4 linked regions of the Homo sapiens genome follow. The protein of the gene in region 1 purifies or fractionates together with the protein of each later gene. This does not show direct contact. Each region holds a gene or a part of one and is shown in the gene's direction. Other genes may lie near its edges.

Evidence for each region.
Region 2: the proteins of MTURN (region 1) and KCTD13 purify together in Homo sapiens (affinity purification with mass spectrometry; one large-scale study listed by BioGRID and IntAct). This does not show direct contact.
Region 3: the proteins of MTURN (region 1) and SPTB purify together in Homo sapiens (affinity purification with mass spectrometry; one large-scale study listed by BioGRID and IntAct). This does not show direct contact.
Region 4: the proteins of MTURN (region 1) and KCTD3 purify together in Homo sapiens (affinity purification with mass spectrometry; one large-scale study listed by BioGRID and IntAct). This does not show direct contact.

Annotation. Positions count from the first base shown.
Region 1 is NC_000007.14:30,137,000-30,142,669, forward strand, and holds part of MTURN (maturin), read left to right. Parts: intron 1-5,670. UniProt on the Homo sapiens protein: Promotes megakaryocyte differentiation by enhancing ERK and JNK signaling as well as up-regulating RUNX1 and FLI1 expression. Represses NF-kappa-B transcriptional activity by inhibiting phosphorylation of RELA at 'Ser-536'.
Region 2 is NC_000016.10:29,912,308-29,917,977, reverse strand, and holds part of KCTD13 (BTB/POZ domain-containing adapter for CUL3-mediated RhoA degradation protein 1), read left to right. Parts: intron 1-5,670. UniProt on the Homo sapiens protein: Substrate-specific adapter of a BCR (BTB-CUL3-RBX1) E3 ubiquitin-protein ligase complex required for synaptic transmission.
Region 3 is NC_000014.9:64,747,300-64,752,031, reverse strand, and holds part of SPTB (spectrin beta chain, erythrocytic), read left to right. Parts: intron 1-1,782; exon of another isoform or gene 1,783-1,877; coding exon 1,878-2,051; exon of another isoform or gene 2,052-2,335; coding exon 2,336-2,378; exon of another isoform or gene 2,379-2,558; coding exon 2,559-2,726; 3' UTR 2,727-4,732.
Region 4 is NC_000001.11:215,572,267-215,577,936, forward strand, and holds part of KCTD3 (BTB/POZ domain-containing protein KCTD3), read left to right. Parts: intron 1-1,519; coding exon 1,520-1,573; intron 1,574-1,800; exon of another isoform or gene 1,801-1,806; coding exon 1,807-1,852; intron 1,853-3,634; coding exon 3,635-3,708; intron 3,709-5,403; coding exon 5,404-5,462; intron 5,463-5,662; exon of another isoform or gene 5,663-5,670. UniProt on the Homo sapiens protein: Accessory subunit of potassium/sodium hyperpolarization-activated cyclic nucleotide-gated channel 3 (HCN3) up-regulating its cell-surface expression and current density without affecting its voltage dependence and kinetics.

The DNA of each region.
Region 1 (5,670 bases):
AACAATAATATTAATGCCTGTAAGCCCATCTTAACTGTAGGTAAAGTAAGTAAATAAGTGTTCTTTTTGGAAGGAGTGGGAGATCATTAAAAAGGGATTCACTCCATTGCAAAAGTGTGAGAAAGCCCCCAGGATACAGTGGAAAGGGCACCAGAATCCAGCTGACTGTAAAATGTTAGGGTTTGGCTAGGGTCCCTTCCAGCTCTGGGCTTCCTTCATCTGCCAGCGCCCTTTCTCCCTCCTGACCGTGTGAAACAGGGCAAGAATGGCTCATGGTTCTGGATTTCACTGGGGAGAAGCCCACACAGCCTTCCTGCTGGGACCGCCCAGGCCATACCCAAAGAAATGACTCCAAAGACAGTAAGTGGGCCAGGAAGACAAAAGGCTGTTCTCTTGCCATGAATATGTGTATCCAACCATCGTTCAGAAGTAAGAAGTATTATATTATTTGTATCAGGCCTTTCTCTTGAGGCCACCCAGATTTTAAATATTTTCCCATCTGCATGAGAAAAATGCTTGAAAGTGTCATGTAAACTGACAATTTAAATAGAATAGATAGAAAGATAGAGGATGGGGGTGGGCAGATGATTCCTTGGGTAGAATGGAACTTTCTCCAAGTTCTGGAGGCTCTAATGGACAAGATGCCAACCTCGGGAGTTTTCCTAGCCGGACCTCTTGAATCTGTCCCAGGCCAGGTTTGTCAAGCTACTGTTTGCCTCTAATAAGTGTCCTGCCTTAGTTCTTTTCTTTTTCCCTGGAAAATGTATTAAGCATTAGACAAAAGTGTGAGATCAATGGAATTTCTATTAGTTGAAGGACTTAGCAATAAGAATGTCTACATGAGCATTTCTCAATTTACAAAAGTATTTCCACATCATTCATTCATTCATTCAACAAACATTTATTGAGGGTTTACTTTGTGCCAGGCCAGTGCTATCTAGAATACAAATAGGGTCTCTGCCTTCATGTTCCTGGGGCAATTTTTACTTGTCTAGGAAGCAGTGTGGTGTGGTGGTTAAGCACACAGGCTGTAGATCAGACTACTTGGGTTTGCACCTCAGCTCCCCGTATTTGTGTGCCTTGGGAAAGTTATTTAACCCCTCTATGCCATACTTTTTTTTTCTTTTTCTTTTTTTGAGACAGTCTTGCTCTGTCGCCCAGGCTGGAGTGTAGTGGCGTAATCTTGGCTCACTGCACCCTCTGCCTCCCGGGTTCAAGTGATTCTTGTGCGTCAGCCTCTCCAGTAGCTGGGATTAAAGGCGTGCACCCCACGCCCAGCTAATTTTTCTATTTTTCGTAGAGACAGGGTTTTGTTACGTTACTTAGGCTGGTCTCGAACTCCTGGGCTCAAGTGATCCTCCCACCTTGGCCTCCCAAAGTGCTGGGATGATAGGCGTGAGCCACTGCACCTGGCCTCTATGCCATAGTTTCTACATCTGTAAAATCGGGATGATAATATTAGTACCTCCTGAGCAGAGTTGTTTGAGAAAGGTATCTAAAGTAGGGGCAGCTTAGATAGTCTAAGCCACTGTCATTTTTCATCGTGTCTCCTAATTTGTCTCCTTGCTTATAACCTCCACCTCACTCTTACTGTAGTACTGAAGTGGAGGTACTAAATAGATCCAAAATGACTGCTTGGGGAGACTGACTCTAAGCCACTGTCTACCCAGCAGTCATTTTGGATCTATTTAAAATATAAGCCAGATCATGTCACCACTATCCCCCACCTCAGCTGAATTGACTTCCCATCTTTTATAATAAAACCTAAGCCCTTACCCTGGCCCCAAGCCCCCACATGATCTACCTTCCTGCCACACAGACCCTGCTGGTCCTCAGATGTGCCAAGCGCATTCCTGCCTCAAGGCCTTGGCACTTGCGTTCTGTCTGCCTAGAACCCTCTTGCCCCAGATCTTTCCACGGCTGGCTCCTCGATGCTCCTGAGGCCCAAGAGAAGCCTTCCTGACCACATGTTCTTAGATCTCACCCTCTTTTATTCTTCCCATAGCACTCGTTAGACTTGGCATTCTCTTTTTGGTTTTCTGCCACTGCCACTAGACTCTAAGCTTCATGAGAGCAGAGGCCTTGTCTGTGTTATCACTGTGTTCTGGCATTTGGAGCAGCATCCATACATGATGGGTGCTCAGTACATATCTATAAGGATGAATAAATTATAGTCTAGTGTAAAAGACATGTCAAATGTCAAGAATTCAGTTTCAAAGAATAATAATAATAGCCATCACTTATGTTCAGTTTACTATGTAGCAGACGCTGCTCTCGGCACTTTACATATGCCAACTCATTTAACTTTAGTACTCTCACATAATTATATAATCTCTATAATTATCTCTGTTTTACAGAGGAAGAAACTGAGGCATGGCAAACTTTACTAACTTTTCCACAGTTAATAAGTGGTAGAGCAACTTCAACTATAGCCCTGTATTTAATGCATGGCATCACAGGAGTGACAACATGGGACCCAATCTAGACTGGGTTCAGGGAGTGCTTCTTATTGGGCCTCACAGAAATTCATTGAGGTAGATATTATTATTCCCACTTTATAGGCAAAGAAACTGAGGCTCAGGGAGTTTAAGAGATTCATCCAGGACTGTACCACTAAGAAGTGACAGAGCAAGGACTTGAGACCAGAGGCCTGTCCTCTCCACCATGCAGAACAGCCCACAGGTGGGGTCAGGCCAGTAGTTCCAGGGGCCCATGTTTAGTAAACAGGACGCCTGTTTATTTTTCCTCCATTTTGGGTCCCTTGCACACTCTTTCTCTATCTCGCTCCACAGGCCATCCCATCCATGCCGACCCTTTCCAAACTGTCCCTCTACCTGGGACCCCTCTCTGTGGGCCCCATGATCAGGGCCTGGGGTGAAACAAAGCTGCTAGTGCCCTGTGTGTGGAGGAAATTCAAGGGCATGGCCACCCTGCCTGGCTCTACAGGTTTGATAAGGGAGGGCTCCTGGCCCTGGTCAGAGGGGTCCAAGGAGTCCTTTCTGCCAACTTGGAAGGTCCTTCGGGGCTTGGTAGGCTTGGAATGGGGTGTCAGCAGCCACTTGGATGCCAGATAAACAGAGGGGCACTCCTAGGCATGGAGCACCAGCTGCGTTCCTTCCTTGTCTTAGGCCACGAGAAATGAGGTCTCTGAACAAAGAGCACTGCCCAGCCCATCTGGGGGCCTGGATCCTGATGATTGTGGGAGAGAGGGAGGGATTCATTTCCCAGATTGCCCAGCCTTTCCTGTCAGCCCAAAGACACGTTGGACTCTAAAATTTTGTATAGTTTAATCCCTCCTCAGCACAAAAACAAAGGTAGTAATCATGATATTATTAAAGAAAAAGGCTTTATTTATGGCAGGACTGTGATTTAATTTTACATGTGTTTGTAGAGGGGTGTGTGTGTGTGTGTGTGTGTATCCCCATTTGTGGTCTGAACACATCTTTATTATTAACTATGTGATCAAATAACAGCCTTCTTATTTGGATAAAGAAAATAGAACTTATTTAAATGAGATTGAGTCCCGCTTATGTGCTGGTATAGTGGAGAGAAAGTACTTTCTTGTTGATTTAAACTCTACCCTGTTTCCTCCTCTGTCAGATAGGGACAGTCATGCCTGTATTACATGATTAGTGTGGGGATGAAATGAAGAGCTGTGCATGTGATGTGCTCAGTAGACATAAGGCCATTCCACATTGGCTGTGCCTGTTCATATAGAGAGGTTATTTCTGGGAAAATGAGAGGTCCTTTGTATATTCTTTGAGTGGTAGTCATGAGGAGAGTAGTTACGTCAATACAAGCTCAAGTGGATGGGCATAATCGCTTATTGGGCCCCTGCTAAATGAGAGTCAGTCTACAGGTTGTCCCCTGAAATCTTTAGATTCCCCCTGTAAATATAATTATTTTCTGTGACTTACAAATGAATACACGAGGCTCCGGTTAAACATTGCGCACAGAGTGTAGTTGAAAGGGTGCACACTCCTCCGTTGACATTCTGGCTCTGCCCTTGTTCCCTGTGTGACCACAGGCAAGTTACTTAACCTCCCTGAGCCTCAATTTCCTCACTGGTAAAATGGGTCAGTGGCTGACACACAGATCGGGCTAGTCCTAGGTATGGCCAGCTGTGCTCTTCCCACCATGTGCAGTGGCTCACACCTGTAATCCCAGCACTTTGGGAGGCCGAGGCGGGCGGATCACCTGAGGTCAGGAGTTCGACACCAGCCTGGCCAGCCTGGTGAAACCCCGTCTCTACTAAAACCACAAAAATTAGCTGGGCGTGGTGGTGGGCGCCTGTAATCCCAGCTACTTGGGAGGCTAAGTCAGGAGAATCAATTGATCCCGGGAGGCAGAGGTTGCAGCGAGCCAAGATCGCACCACTGCATTCCAGCCTGGGCGACAGAGCAAGACTCCGTCTCAAAAAAAAAAAAAAAAAAAGAGAAAAAAAGAAATATGTTGGGAGGCGTGTGGTGGACTGTGGCTTTTATCTTTTTCTGCCATCTGTTTCCAGGACAAGAATCAGGGTTTTGTTTTGGTATTTTATTTTGGAAACAGGGTCTCACTCTTGCTCACGCTGGAGTACAATGGTGTGATCAGAGCTCACCGTAACCTCAAATTCCTGGGCTGAAGCAGCCTGCTGCTTCATCCTGGCAAGTAGCCAGGACTACAGGTGCGCACCACCACACCCAGCTATTTTTCTTATTTTTTGTGGAGACTGGAGTCTTGCTCTGTTGACCAGGTGGTCTTGAACTCCTGGTCTCAAGCAGCTCTTCCGCCTTGGCCTCCCACAATGTTGGAATTACAGGTGTGAGCCACCAGGCCTGGCCAGGGATCCATTTTGGATTAAGACACACCAATTCAAAATGGACTCCCTCGGTACCGAGTGGCAGAAAACCCCCACTTCAGTACTCCAGTAAGAGTGAGTCCCAGAGCAAGGGCCCCAGAGGGAGGAGACACAGGAGTGTGTTCTTACCTCCCCTGCCACCCCCACCCTGCTTAAGCACCAGGAAGTCCAGCTGCATACCCACCAGGATTTAGAATAGTAGGGGTGCACACATTGTGCTCCCCCAAAAATGTCTGTAGGGTTGGACTACTTTAATGACTGGAGACCACTTTTTGATAAACTGGATATTCCGATCTACATTGTACAAAACAGGAAGGTGCTCATTTTCCTATTTGCAGGTGACATAGTTATATTCTCTTAAGCTGGGCAAGCTTTTATGATAAACTCTGGCCTGACTTCACAGGAAGAAGGGTCGCAGATGGCCTATACTCAAATCAAAGTGCTTATCGGATTTTCTGTAGGAAAGAGTAGACCACTCAGGCCAGGTTCGATGACAGCCACTTCACTGCAGCTCAGGCCAACCTGAGATTTGGAGCTGGCTATAGTCAGTAATGGCAATTGCTGTAGTTCTCCCGGAAAGATATTTAAATGTCACACCACCCACAACCCCCTTCAAATATGTAGTTAGCCAAAGTTCTGCTGTGCCCATGGTTCTCAAAGTGTGGTCCCAGAACCAGCCACATGAGCGTCAGCTGGGAATTTGTTGGAAATACATATTCTCAGCTCACTGAATAGTTCATTAGCTAAATAAACTGATTACCAAGCAGAGGTGGATACATTGCAATTCTGTCATTGTGTTTGAGTGATACACTTTTCTCAGTTAACTTTGC
Region 2 (5,670 bases), on another chromosome or scaffold:
GTGAGCTTTGTAGTTTTATTTTTATTTTTTGAGGCAGAGTCTTGATCTGTCACCCAGGTTAGAGTTCAATGGTGTCATCTCGGCTCACTGCAACCTCCACCTCCCAGGTTCAAACAATTTTCATGTCTCAGCCTCCCGAGTAGCTGCGATTACAGGCGTGCACCATGACACCTGGCTGATTTTTTATTTTTTATTTTTCTAAATGGAGTCTCACTCTATTGCCCAGACTGGAGTGCAGTGGCATGATCTCGGCTCACTGCAACCTCTGCCTCCCGGGTTCAAGCGATTCTCCTGCCCTAACCTCCTGAGTAGCTGGGATTACAGGCGTGCACCACCATGCCTGGCTAATTTTTGTATTTTAGCAGAGATGGGGTTTCACGACGTTGGCCAGACTGGTCTCGAACTCCTGACCTCGTGATCCGCCCGCCTTGGTCTCCCAAAGTGCTGGGATTACAAGCATGAGCCACCACACCCGTCTAATTTTTGTATTTTTTGTAGAAAGGGGGTTTTGCCATGTTGGTCAAGCTGGTCTCAAACTCCTGAGCTCAAGCGATCTGCCCACTTCGGCCTCCCAAAGTGCTGGGATTACAGGTGTGATCCGCTATACCTGACCTATAGTTTTAAATATGGATTTTTTTCATATATGGGTATTTTAATCTAAATGGAACTCACTTTTGTAAATATGATTGTGAAGGGATTTAGCTCATTTTTGTCTTCCATAGGGTGAGGTAGTTTTCCCAGTGCCAGGTATTAAACAGTCCAGAGGTAGCCAGCACCCAAGACAGCCACCAGGGGTTCTTGCCTCCTGGTTTCCAGGCTCTTGTTCAGTCCCCTCCCACACCAAATAGGGCAGACCTTTTCAGATCCTCACCAAGGAGACCCTTGTGTATGACCAATAGGACATTGCAGAAATGACAGCATGTGACTTTGAAGCTAGGTCATAAAAGACATTACAGCTTCTGCCTCTCTTTGAGATCACTCACTCTATGTGAATGCTATGTGAGGACACTCAGGCATCCCTAAGCAGAGGTCCACTTGGTGAGGAACTGAAGCCCCTGCCGACAGCAAGCACAGACTCCCCGCCATAGTGGTGACCTGTCTCAGAACCAGAGCTTCTAGGCCCAGGCAAACCTTCTGATGACTGCAGCCCTAGCCAAAATCCAGACTGCAGCTTCATGACAGATTCTGGGCCAGGGCCACCCAGCTAAGCCCATCCCAAATTCCTGACCCACAGAAACTATGTGAGATAATGTTTATTTTTATTTATTTATTTTTAAATAGAGACAGAGTCTTGCTCTGTCGGCCAGGCTGGTCTCGAACTCCTGACCTCAAGCAGTCCTCCAGCCTTGGCCTCCCAAAATGCTGAGATTACAGGCATGAGCCTCCACACCTGGACTGTTGTTTTAAGCTGCTGAGTTTGTAGTAATTTGTTACCCAGTAACAGAGAACAGACTTTGGTTTCTGGAATGGGGGTCTGCCATAACAGAAACCTCAAATGTAGAAGTAACTTTACAACTGAGAAGTGGGAAGAAGCTGGAAGGACTTTGAGGAGATTGTTAGTAAAAGCTTAAGGAGTGTTAAAAAGTATTGGCTGGGCACAGTGGTTCACACTTGTAATACCATAACTTTTGGAGGCCAAGGTGGGAGGATCACTTGAGTTCAGGAGTTCGAGACCAGCCTGAGCAATATAGTGAGACCTTGTCTCTAAAAAAATTAAAAGAAAAAAGGTGAGAAAGTCTGTTAATAAGAGTCCAGTGACCTTTAAGACAGCTGCAATAAGGGCTTGAAGAACAGTTAGGAAAATGCTATTGGAAACTGATGGAAAGGAGATCCTTGTGTAGCGGCAGAAAGTTTAGCAACACTGTCTCCTGCATTAGTGTGGAGGGTAGGAAATATACCTAAGGAACGGATGGTCTAGCTAAGGAGCTTTCCAGACAGAATGTTGAAGGTGCCACCTGGCTTCTTGCTGCTTATAGTAAAACTGAAGAGGAGAGAGTAAGTTAAAGAAAAAAAACACTTAAATGAAAAAGAGCCTGAAATTGTTGGGTTTGAAAATTCCCAGCCTTTCCAGATAACAAGTGATGTTAAAATTAACAAATGGCTTCCGTGCAAAGATTAAATACAAGGCATTAAATACAGGGAAATGTGGTCTAAAGGTCAAGCTGAGGATGTGATGAAAAAGTCCTTTGTTAAGACCTCAGAAATACCAACAAGATGCCTCAGAGGGGACTTCCAGTCGAATGAAATAATAATCACGCTTCTGAGAAGGTTAAAGGTGTTGTCTTTCAGCGTCTCAGCACAAGCCCAAAGTAGAGAAGGGCTTACCTTGCAGAGATTTTCTTTTTTCTTTTTCTTTTCTTTTTTTTTTTTTTGAGATAGCTCACTGCAACCTCCTCCTCCTGGGTTCAAGTGATTCTCCTGTCTCAGCCTCCTGAGTAGCTGCGATTACAGGTGCCCACCACCACGCCCAGCTAATTTTTGTATTTTTAGTAGAGATGGGGTTTCACCATGTTGGTCAGGCTAGTCTCAAACTCCTGACCTCAGGTGATCCACCCACCTCGGCCTCCCAAAGTGCTGGGATTACAGGCGTGAGCCACTGTGCCTGGCCACTTGCAGAGATTTCTAGGTGTGGCTTTTTTCTAATGTAGTGAACCCTAAGACATGCAAGATACCCAATAAGTTATGAAGAGAATTATATTGGCAGAGACACTGCCAGCTTGGACTGAAAGGGACAGAGCCAGTGCAAAAGGACAAGACGGCTTTGCACACCCAAACTTTTACAGGCAGGAAGCAGGCAGATGAAACTGTGGAGCTGCAAACATCTTTCATGGAAGAGGTGGGACGACTCAGGGAGAGCCATGGAGAATCATTCATGAACAGGAGTAGGCATCAAAGAGTTCCTAGCATTTCTCCAACTGGATTACAGAATTTCCACACACCAGTGACTTATATGTATGACTTATATGTGCCTCCTGTCCCCTGCCCCACTTTTTTTTTTTTTTGAGACAGAGTCTTGCTATGTTGCCCAGGCTGGTCTCGAACTCCTGGGCTCAAGTAATCCTCCCACCTTGGCCTCCTGAGTAGCTGGGATGACAGGCACACGCTACCACGCCCGGCTTCCCCTGCTTTTGAGCAAGAATGTCCTTACTGGTTATCCTGTGCCTGCCTCTACCACTGCACACTGGGAGTGTGGAGATGACCTGTCTCTTTAGCTCACAGGTCTGCAGATAGGAAATGCACTTAAGGGCTGGATGCGGTGGCTCACGCCTGTAATCCCAACACTTTGGGAGGCCAAGGCAAGTGGATCACCTGAGGTCAGGAGTTAAAGACGAGCCTGGCCAACATGGTGAAATCCCGTCTCTACTAAAGAAAATTAGCTGGGATGGTGGTGCATGCCTGTAGTCCCAGCTACTTGGGATGCTGAGGCAAGAGAATCACTTGAACCTGGGAAGCAGAGTTTTCAGTGAGGTGAGATGGTGGTGGCTCTGCACTTCAGCTTGGGAGACAGAGCAAGACTCCATTTCAAAAAAAAAAAAAAAAAAGAAATGCACTTAAGGAGCCATAGTTACGGAACTGCATGCTAGAGCCACATCCCCACCTGGACCTGACTGAGATGATGAGATTCTGTACTTTGAGCTGATGCTGTAATGGGATGATGGGGGATCCTGGAAGGTGGTGAGTATATTTGGCATGTGGGAGGGGGGAAATCACTGAGAGCCAGCGGTGGCCTGTGGAGCCAGCCACCAAGGCAGCCTGATGATTCTCGTCCCCTGGTGCTCGTTCCTGTGTGTCATCTCCTTCCTCACTGGATAGGACCAACAGACCTAGGTCATAAAAGACAATGGAGGGGCCCGGCGCTGTGGCTCACGTCTGTAATCCCAGCACTTTGGGAGGCTGAGGCGAGTGGATCACCTGAGGTCGGGAGTTTGAGACCAGCCTGGCCAACATGGTGAAACCCTGTCTCTACTAAAAATACAAAAATTAGCTGGGCGTGATGGCACACCTCGGTAATCCCAGCTACTTGGGTGGTTGAGGCAGGAAAATCACTTGAACCTGGGAGGCGGAGGTTGCAGTGAGCCGATATTACGCCACTGCACTCCAGCCTGGGCGACACAGTGAGACTCCATCTCAAAAATAAAAAAGACAATGAGGCTTCCACCTTGCCCTCTCTGGAATTATTTGCTCTGGAGAAGCCAGTTGCCATGCTGCGAGGATACTCAAGCAACCCTGTGGAGAGATCTACATGGCAGGGATTTGTTGTTTCCTGCCAGCAGCTAGTGCGAACTTGCCAGCCACATGAACAAGCTTTCTCAGAGTGCATCCTCTAGGGGCGGTCATGCCTTTGATGCCCACAGCCCCACTGACATCTTGGCCACAGCCTCAGAAGAGACCCTGTGCCGGAGCCACCCAGCCGAGCCACTGCTGAGATCCTGACCCTCAGAAACAGAAGTAATAAATATTGTTAATTTAAGCTCCTAAATTGGGGGCAGTTTGTTACACAGTGATAGATAACGAATTCATACTCCGTAATTCCCCTCGCACATTTGTGGTGTCTTTTTAAAAATACCAATTCTCATATACACAGTGGTCTGTTTCTGATCGCTCTGTTGTGTTTCTCAGGTATTTTTGTTTCTGTGCCCGAACTGATACCGTTCTCACTGTTGTGGCTTTGCAGCCTATCTTAATATCTGGCAGGGTCGGCCTTTCCTCTTTGCTCTTATTTTTAAAAACTGACCTAAGTTTGGGAGGATGGCTTGAGCCCAGGAGGTCAAGGCTGCTGTAAGCTGTGGTCATGCCACTGCACTCAGCCTGGATGACAGCAAGACCCTGTCTCAAAAAAAAAAAAAAAAAAAAAATGGCCTCAGTAATTGTAGACTTTTATTATTCTCTGTTAATTTTAGAGAGTCTTATGAGTTTCTGCAAAAAACAAATCTGGAATTTGTATTAGAATTGCGCATTGAGTTTTCAAGGTTGGGAGAAGTGAGAGGGATTTTGGCATGAAGATTCTAGAAGACAGAAGAGAAAGAAGCCCATGGGTTTGCTTCAGATTTCTTTCTCCAACGTCATCCCACCCAATGAAGTTCATTCACTCAACAAATATGTTCATTCATTCAACAAATACAGAGCATCAGCTGTATACTAGGTAGTTATTCCTAGGTGGGAAGAGACAGATCATAAACAAATACAAAAAGTTAGAAAAAGTCAGACACTAACTGCTGTGTAGAAAATGAACTGATAGGCCTGGTGCAGTGGCTCACGCCTGTAATCCCAGCACTTTGGGAGGCTGAGGCGGGCTGATCACCTGAGTTCGGGAGTTCATGACCAGCCTGACCAACATGGAGAAACCTCGTCTCTACTAAAAATACAAAATTAGCTGGGTGTGGTGGCACATGCCTGTAATCCCAGCTACTCAGGAGGCTGAGGCAGGAGAATTGCTTTAACCCGGGAGGTGGAGGTTGCAGTGAGCCGAGATGGCGCCATTGCACTCCAGCCTGGGCAACAAGCGAAACTCTGTCTCAAAAAAAGAAAAAGAAAACTGATAACACAAAAGGCAGGATGTAGAGGAGGCTGTTTTAGCCAGGGGGGCTGGGGAGGGCTGGCCCTGAGGAGGCACTGTGTGACCTGCGATCTGAATGGCATGACGGACACGCCACGCTGACAGCTGAGCAA
Region 3 (4,732 bases), on another chromosome or scaffold:
ACCTCCGCCTCCCAGATTCAAGTGATTCTCCTGCCTCAGCCTCCTGAGTAGCTGGGATTACAGGCACGTGCCACCACGCCTGGCTAATTTTTTTTTTTTTTTTTGCATTTTTAGTAGAAATGGGGTTTCACCTTGTTGGTCAGGCTGGTCTCGAACTCCTGACCGCATGATCCGCCTGCCTCAGCCTCCCAAAGTGCTGGGATTACAGGTGTGAGCCACCACGCCCGGCCGACATGAGCCCTATTTGTAAAATTTGTTCCTTTAAAAAGTTTAGTATACTTGGCACATCTCATCAAAACAGAAAACAATCACTGAAACAAAACCCTGTTCATTCCTTCACAGTTCTTTAGTGAGAATCAAATACACTGATGGATGTAGAAATATTGTAAAAAGTTAATTTTTTACTGTTGGTCTTAAGACGTAATAGTTCTATAAGTGTACTTCAAGGTAAGATCAGAATTATAGGCACAGATTTATGTGTAAGAATGTTCATCACATTGCTATTTAAATTATGGGCACATTTTCCAGTATTATAAGGTTCATCAATAAAGGGATTGTGAAAGTCTTCCACATAGCTATTCAAAATTATTTTAAGAAATATTTGAGGATAGGGGCCGGGCGTGGTGGCTCAGGACTGTAATCCCAGCACCTTGGGAGGCTGAGGTGGGTGGATCGCCTGAGGTCAGGAGTTTGAGACCAGCCTGGCCAACGTGGTGAAACCCTGTCCCTACTAAAAATACAAAAATTAGCTGGGTGTGGTGGCTTGCGCCTGTAGTCCCAGCTACTCGGGAGGCTGAGGCAAGAAAATCGCTTGAACCTGGGAGGCGGAGGTTGCAGTGAGCTGAGACTGCACCACTGCATTCTAGCCTGAGTGACAGAGGCTCTGTCTAAAAATATGTATATTATATATAAATATTATATATTATATATATTATGTATAATATATAAATGTTATATACTATAAATGTTATATATTATATAATATATAATTGCTACATATATAATATATAACATAATGTATAATATATAATGTATTATATATAATGTATAAAATATACATTATATGATGTATAAAATATGTATTATATAGTATATGATATATAATGTAATATACATATTTTATATATTTATATATTTCATATAAATATATATTATACATAATAGGTATATATGTTATATAATAAATATGTAAATATTATATAAATTATATAATAAAAGTATATATAAATATATATTACATATATACTTTTTTTTTGAGACTAAGTCTCGTCTCTGTCACCCAGGCTGAAGTGCAGTGGCTCAATCTCGGCTCACTACAAGCTTCGCCTCCCGGGTTCAAGCGATTCTCCTGTCTCAGCCTCCTGAGTAGCTGAGACTGCAGGCATGCGCCACCAAGCCCGGCTAATTTTTGTATTTTTAGTAGAGATGGGGTTTTACCACGTTTGCCAGGCTGGTCTTGAACTCCTGACCTCAGGCGGTCCGCCCGCCTCGGCCTCCCAAAGTGCTGGGATTACAAGTGTTAGCCATCTTGCCTGGCAAAAAAAGAAATATTTGAGGATATGGAGAAATACTCATGATTTAGTGTTATGCTTAGAAACACGATATAAAATTGAATATATCCATAACCCAGTTTTAGCTATCTGTGACTAGTAAAAAAAAAAATGCGAAAATGTGAAGACTAGAAGGAATACATAAAATGTTAATAATAGCTAATTTTTTGTAATGAAATTACATGCAGATGATTTTTTAACAATAAAACATGTTACTATGTATCAGAACAAACATGGTGTAATTTTTTTTAATGGTGAAGCTATAGGAATTGACTCTAGAGATACCATATCAGGATGTGGGTGACCTGCCTGTCTGCATCTTTGCAGGTCCTGGAACAACCTGTACTGTGTGCTCAGGAACAGTGAGCTAACCTTCTACAAGGATGCCAAGAACCTGGCCCTGGGGATGCCCTACCATGGGGAGGAACCCCTGGCCCTGAGACATGCCATCTGTGAGATTGCTGCCAACTACAAGAAGAAGAAGCACGTCTTTAAGCTGAGGTGAGGCCTTCCTGGCCTTTGAAAGCTCGGGTTGATGGCTTGATTTGGCATTAGTGGCAGGGCAGAGGCCCTCTGTAGGGGACCAGTGCCAGGCCTGAGCTGCTCCTCAGGGGTTTTTCAAATCAAAGAGGCTGATGGTCCAGACTTTGACCTCTCAGAAAGTGCTGGGCTGCCTGAGAGGGGTCTGGATGTTCGGCTCAGGGTATTGTGGGATCAGAGCCAGCCCTCTGCCCAGCGCCCCCTCCAGAGGTGTCTCCATGACAGGAAACCCTTTGTCCTCCTAGGCTGAGTAATGGCAGCGAGTGGCTCTTCCATGGCAAGGATGAGGTAAGCGCGGGCAGCCTAGCCCAGACCTGGCTAAGAAGGGGGTAGGTGGAGGACCCCAGGCCGCTTGCCCTGGAGGCCCCCTCAGAAGGGGCAGTCCCAAGAGCCCCCACCATTGTTGCCTGGCCCGGGAGGTGGGGGGCTGTGGGCCTCCAGACTCCACCGTGACCCTCCGCCCCGCAGGAGGAGATGCTGTCCTGGCTGCAGGGCGTGAGCACCGCCATCAACGAGTCCCAGAGCATCCGCGTCAAGGCGCAGAGCCTGCCCCTGCCTTCCCTCTCCGGCCCCGACGCCAGCCTCGGCAAGAAAGACAAGGAGAAGAGATTCAGCTTCTTCCCCAAAAAGAAGTAGCAGGTGGGGCTGGCGGGCGCGGCGGAGTCGGGACGCGCAGAGACCGGGCAGCCCAGGCCTTGGCCTCCTCTCGCCGCCGCCCGCCGGTCGAATCGAGATGAGTCGAGTCGCGGGCCGGGCCCCCGGGCCCCACGCTGCACTGCAAAAGCTGCCTTCGCCCGCGTGTCCTGGGCCGACGCCCCCTCCATGCCCTCGCCCGCGCTGGCTCCGCTCCAGGGACAGGGGCTCCCAGCTCCTCTGGCGCCTTTGGGGCCTCCAGGCCTGGGGGCAGGAAACGGTTCTCTGAGGCACACGCCCTCCTCTCCCACCCTCCTCCTGAGCCGAGGGGGCACAGGCCCCTTACCCCCAACCAAAAAAAAAAAAAAAAAAGAGCTGGAGAAGGCTGATGGGGTTCTTCAAACGCTGCCCGTTCCTAAAGCAAGTCTTGCTTCGGGTCACCTCCCACCTGGTGGCAGCCAGGGAAAGGGGAAAGGAAGAAGACACTGGAAATGCATGGCCAGCCCCCTAGGGGCATGAGGAAGGAGCCTTCAGGTGGCCCACAAAGCCCTAGCTCTGGGCCAGGGGCTCTGGGGGGCTGAGGGGACCAGACTGGGTGCAGGGCCTTGGGAGCTGCCAGCCTCCTTCCCACTGGGCTTCCGCAGAACTGGGACTCTCACTTCAGGGGCCACCACATCCCTCCTCTCTGCTTCTCCCCCCAGATCAAAGGGTACCCTCCCACGGTTGGCAGGGCCTGGCTGAGTGCCTCTAGCACCCTTTGTGCCACCACAGGCGGTCCCAGGAAGGGCAGCAAGGTCAGACCATTCCTCATTGAAAACCGTGGCTAGGGCACAGGGCTCTGATCTGAAGGAGTGACAGGTGCGTCACAACACTGCCTAAGGCTCTCCCTCTCAATGCTGGGACCCTCGCCCCACTCCCAGTGGCAGCCAAACCAGCAATATCCAACAGACATAGGCCCCCTACGGGACAGTGTGGGCCCCCAGATATAAGATGGATACCCCCCGCACCTGCAGTAAAGCATCCCAAAGCCAAATGCTCAATTGCATCCTGTCTGCAGCTGGGACTTTGGAGGGTAATGGCTGGGCAGACAGTAAAGTTGATCATCTGTTTTCTCGGGGTGGCAGACGCAGCCATGTCTTGGTATCACCACCCATGTGACAGCTACTCCTGCACAACTGGGACAAATGTCAGGGCCAGAGCCATGAAGGTGTGGTACCCCTTGATCAGCTTCTCCACGTCCTGGCCCCAGGTCTTGGCGGGGAGGGGGTCACATGAGTACAGAGGTCAAATATCTACCACCCTCCAGCCCTGAGCACCAGAAGCTCTGCAACCAACGTCCCCAGGAATGGCCTTCCCCTTGCTGCTCAGGTCATACTTCTGGAGGAAGAGAAAGCTCATTCCATATTTTCCCCACCACTCTACTCCGAAAGCAACACAGTTCTGGCCCAGTATCAAACTAGGGTTAGGTCCAAGAGAGCAGTCAAGCGGGTCGGGGGTGGGGGGGAGGGCGGAGGGCAGCAGGCATTTTCCCCCAAGGAAACCATGAAAGTCCCCAGGGCCTGCAGTCAAGTTTCTATCACCTTCCCCGTGAGAAGGACCTTAGTTCCATGGAGATGAAGTGGGTGAGGTTCAGGTAGAAGCCACAGGGGCAGGCATCCAGAATGAGGCCCCCTGAGGAACCCTGAGTGCTGACCAGTGCCGGCAGAAATCAGTTCCACCCTGTGGCCCTGACACTATATGTCAGGGTGACACCAACTGCAGCAGGCAGGAGCCACAGGAAGGAAGACGTCATCCGATGGAGCCTGACATCCCCAGGTTCCCGCCCTGGTGAGCAAGGTCTTCATTTGGCTTTGGTACATATGACCCTATACAGGGAACCTAGTGTGTATCACTCACCAGCCTCTTTCTGTATCTGGGGAAACCAAGGCAGTGAGGTGACTGCACTCACCTAGCAATAAAGTAGGCCTTTGGTGCACTTGCAGGCATGTCCTCCTCTGGGGCAGAGAGCA
Region 4 (5,670 bases), on another chromosome or scaffold:
GGTGCTAAGAACAATGCTTTTAGGTGGTCCTCTCTGGCTTTAAGAAAAAACAACATCTACTTTTTTAATACAAAATCCATTTCTGAAACTGAGTTTGAAAAGTGAATTTACAGATAATCCATTTATCAAGATATGTAAAATATTATGAGCCATTGTTGCCTCAGGTGCCTGGATGGACTTGCAAAGTTGAGAGATCTGTGAGACTTCTGACACTACTCTGTATAAGCCTTGGTAGTCACAGTCACCCTGGCCTGCAATCCAGTGCTATTTAATAGCCCACTTAGAAGATGGGAATGGGAAGTAGGATGTATTTTGAGGTTTGTTATGCTGCAGTGAGCATAATAAAAAAAAGTAAGCAACTTCCACGTTTTTGATAATTCCAGGCTGCTAATTTAGGTAATGGCAGACAATAGATGGATGATACAGTGTATACATGCACAGCCTGGGAAACATCCCTTAGCCATTTTGGCTGGGGTTTGGCCTGTGTTTCCTGGTGATAGTGCATGGTAACTAGTGCCACTATTCAGTCACCTTGTTTAGTTTAAGTATGAAAGGTAAAAATAAATTTAGGGATTTCATATAATGCCAGAAAATAAATGTGGAGTGAAAGTAGAGGTTTGCTAGGCTGGGTGAGATAACATTGTAGTTCAAGGTGATATCTTAAAATGAAAATACTCAGAGAAGGGCTGGACTGAACAAGTACTATATTGCTTTGTTTGCCATATCAGTTTACATAAATTATTGGTTTGTTGTCCCAGTCTATTATACTGTACTTTGGTAAAGATCCTCCCTTGGTAATATACAAGCTTGATCAAATGACAACCTCAGAACAGTGATGTATTTGGCTGAATGATTTTTGAATGAATGAAGTCAGCAGTTGCAGATAGCCCAAGACTGCCTATAAAGAAGGTGTTAAATGAGTAATTTACAGTGAAATTACTATGAGCTTAAAAAGAGATAATACAGGATTGGATATTTAGAAAAACTATTACAGGGAAGGTAAAACCTGAGTGGTATCAAGAAAGATGGACGGATCTTGAATTATTGGACATGAAGAGAGTGATCTAGCTGAATAAAGATACCAAAATGGTAGTAAGCATGAATTTTTTGGGGATATGAAGAAGTTTTGTCCTATTAGAGGGGAAAACCAGCATTTGTACTGGAGAGATGAGATGGAACCTGAAGGTAATTTTGAATGTTATACTGAGAAGTTGAGACTTGGTGTGATGGGCTAATTGTTGATTCTTCAGCAGAGATTAGCTTATTGGAAAGTAGTGTTTTAAGATGCATTATATGGCGGATAACAAGTTGTTTATTGTTATTGAGAGCTGCTTGTATAATCTTAACTCTGAATTGAAAGTAGCAACGTTTAAAAATATTAACTGTAATAAATATATTGGTACAGCTATAACTATAAAACATCTTGTAAATCATTAGCCAGTGTATTAAAACAAGTTAACTAATACTGAAATTTCAAATCATGTTCTCACTTATAATACCAGATGATTTTTAATTGCAGATTTAGTACCTCAAGACAAACTCTTATGTGGATTCCAGATTCTTTTTTTTCCAGGTATGTCTTATAATTCTTTAGTGTATATTTTAATACATTTATTTACCAAAATATAATAATGTTTGTCAGTTAAATTTTTTTTAATAAAAAAGGTTAACTCTTAAAATTATATATTTTTGAACTTGGAAGATAGATAACTTACTTTTAGTGGTCTTTAACATTTGGTAAAGAATTAGCACATTTGTTTATACTCAGATTTTAAAAACTAACTTTAGATTATTAATGACTTCCAGTTTGCTGAGTGGGAGAATTTCAACACTTCGAGATGAAACTGGTGCTGTGAGTATAATAATAATTGATACATATTCCTAAATTAATGCTTATAGTGCTTGGTCCTAACATATAGTTACTCTAAGAATATAGGAGAACTGATATTTTAATAATCACTGAATGAAAGTGGCATAATTTTATTTCTTGTCATATGTAGTTTTTTATAATCAGAGAAGATCCCTAAGTAGGGAATACTATATATGGCAATTTAAGTATTCATGATTAGAGAGATTGTAGGATATGAGCTTACATTGGCATTAGAAGAAATTTTTTTAGATCAATAATTGAAACTTTAACAGTAAGTGGATAAATGTAAATATTCTAATATTTTTATATTAGAATATAAGAGGTTAAATTAGTAAACTCCTACAGTTTTTTATTTTATTTTGGAGAATAACCTTGCGAATTTGTTTATACAGCATTGGTACAGTGAGGGAAGGAAAGAATTGTAAAGTTTCAGTGCAAAAAAATTGGTTTATCCATTTGGAGGCAACAAAGTGACCAATGGTATTTATTTGCTGTGGTGAGATTTGCAGATGAAATAAGGCAACAAATGCAGATATGTCCATGTGAAATTATAAAAAGTTATCAATAATAAGATCTCCACAAATCTGTGATGTCTCTTCGATTTTTGATGTGCTCTAATGAAAACAAAAGAAAATTTATAAAGCTTAGAAGAATCTCATTGATTGTATATATATAGTTGATCATAGTAGGAAGAGTTTTATTACTGGCTGCCATTTCCCTTTCTAATTGATTTACATAAGCTTTAAAAGATGTTCCGTTTTTATGGCCAGATCTTTTGTAAATGATTCAAAATAGGTGTTGGTATAAATTTCCATAAAAAGTTATCAATTATGGGCTGGGTGGGGTGGCTTATGCCTGTAATTCCAGCACTTTAGGAGGTCGAGGCAAGTGGATTACCTGAGGTCAGAAGTTCAAGACCAGCATGGCCAACATGGTGAAACCCCCTCTCTACTAAAAACAGAAAAATTAACCCGGCATAGTGGCAGGTGCCTCTAATCCCAGCTACTCAGGAGGCTGAGGCAGGAGAATTGCTTGAACTTAGGAGGTGGAGGTTGCAGTGAGCCCAGATCGTGCCACTGCACTCCAGCCTAGATGAGAGAGCAGGATGCTGTCTCAAAACAAACAAACAAACAAAAGTTACCAATTATGTATTTTACATTTTTAAGCAATTTGTTTTCCTCTTATGTATTCTGTGGTGCTTTAGTTTAAAAAAAAAAAATTGTCATTACCTTTCCCCAGCTCTGAAGGAAATTGAGATTAGTAAAAGTATTATGAGAATAGTATTCTTTTCCACTTTTGACAGCAGTGTGCAGTATTTACTTTTCTCAAGTACCCCTGTGTGCATTATTAAAGTACATTGTAGTTTTAATGATTGAACAGTATAAGAAAGTATTATTTATTCATGTTTTCGAAGTATTAATTGAATTCTAGACTGTTTCAGATAAAAATGTTTCCTCAGGTGTCACTTTTACCAAAGGTATCAATACAAGTGATTTTATTAGACAAGATTTTTTCTATGTATTAAAATATCAGTTTAATAATAACTATTCAGAGGAAGAAAAAGACACCATCTCAAGAAAAAGACACCATCTCATGAAATGCACACAGACTACATTCCAATTTTAGAAACATTAAAGTTTAAGAGTGGAAACAAGGAAATGTAGTATTTAAGTAATTAAGACTTCATTCCCTATTAGTGTTACAGATATTAAAGTTAAAAGATTAATTTGTAATTTGAAAATAAAACTGTTCTCTTTTTTACAGATATTTATTGATAGAGATCCAGCAGCATTTGCACCCATTTTAAATTTTCTTCGGACAAAAGAACTAGACTTAAGGTAAGAAATGCACTCTTTTTAAAGTAAATTCTTACTGATAAATATGTGTTTTTAATATGTTTTATGAAATAAAAGGTTTTTTTTGTTTGTTTTTTTTTTTCCTTGAGTTGCAGTCTTGCTCTGTTGCCCAGGCTGGAGTGCAGGAGTGCAGTGGCATGATCTCTGCTCACTGCAACCTCCGCCTTTCAGGTTCAAACAATTCTCCTGCCTCAGCCTCCCGAGTAGCTGGGACTGTAGGCACATGCCACCATGCCCGGCTGATTTTTTGTATTTTAGTAGAGAAGGGGTTTCACTGTGTTGCCCAGGCTGATTGCAAACGCCTGAGCTCAGGCAGTCTCCCCGCCTTAGCCTCCCAAAGTGCAGGGATTACAGGAATGAGCCACTACGCCCAGCCAGAAAAGGTTTTTTTTTTTTTACTAAGACTTTGATTAAAAGTTTCCTCACACTGAAACTGGATGTGGTGGTACACGCCTATAATCCCAGCTACTCTAGAGAAGAAGCTGAGGCAGGAGGATCCCTTGAGGCCGGGAGTTTGAGGCTGCAGTGAGTTATGATCATGCCTCTGGCCAGTACTGCTGTACTGTTAACACAAATAGTTTCGAAATAGAATAAGAAAGTTTGAAGCTTTTTTTTTTTGAGACTGAGTCTTACTCTGTCACCCAGACTCACTGCAATCTCCACCTCCCGGGTTCACGCCATTCTCCTGCCTTAGCCTCCCAAGTAGCTGGGACTACAGGCACCCGCCACCACACCCGGCTAATTTTTTTGTATTTTTAGTAGAGATGGGGTTTCACCGTTTTAGTCATGATGGTCTCCATCTCCTCACCTCGTAATCCACCCGCCTTGGCCTCCCAAAGTGCTGGGATTACAGGTGTGAGCCACCGCCCCCAGACACAAAGTTTTAAGCATTTTTAATGTTAAACTAGTCATAACCAGTTTCACAAATAAAAACAATTTAACATAGTAATTGTATATATTTATCAAGGCTGGGGAATATTTTTAAAATAAGGACAAATTACAACTGAAACCTAAGATGAATTATTAGTATTATAAGTTCTGAATCTTCCATTTTTTAAAAATTTTATTTCATGTTACTTAACTTTACTACTATGAAGTAGCATCATTTCATCTGGATAACATAGCCCTTCCCAAGGCTAGTCTTTTTTTTTTTTCTATTTTATTTGTTCAACAAATATTTATTACATAACTATTTTATACAAGCACTATGCTAGGCACTGTGAGGTATACAAACATAGATCAGAAATAGATCATGCTCGCAGGGAATTTATAGTGTAATTGGGGAGATTAAGATAGATATGTATAGAAATAATTGCGATAAAAAGTTAAAAGCAACTAATGCCATAAAAGAATGGTTTCCATTCTATCGTTTGCCTTCTAGACAATTTATTTGTACTAGCCTGATAGAGCCCTAATCTCTCCTTTAGTGACCCAATTCATATATATGTATATATATGAATGGTTTTTAAGTAGATAACAGAATATTTTTGTTCACATGCAGTTTTTATTTACACTTTTTAATGATTAAGGATAATAGAAATAAAGAGTATTAGGAGGAAAATAATTTTTAAAGCCTTATGACTATATACATGAAGAACCTAGAATTTTTTCCTTTCATGTCAGATGATAATACAGGTTTCCAGTGTTAGAGAATTTACATCATTTGTTTCTTTGTAGGGGAGTGAGTATTAATGTTCTCAGGCATGAAGCAGAATTTTACGGGATCACTCCATTAGGTATGTGCTCTTTTAATATTTGGTGTTTATGATTTGACTCATGTATGAAAGTTGCCCTAAATGAAATGTGTTTATATCAGGTCCTAATTTTTGATGGACTTGTTCAGTGCTTAGTTTTTGTGGATTTTCATAGTAAAAAGATGTTGTCAACTCTGACTTAATTAAAATTTTCCTTTTCTTTCCTTATCCTCTTGAACTAGAGAAAATA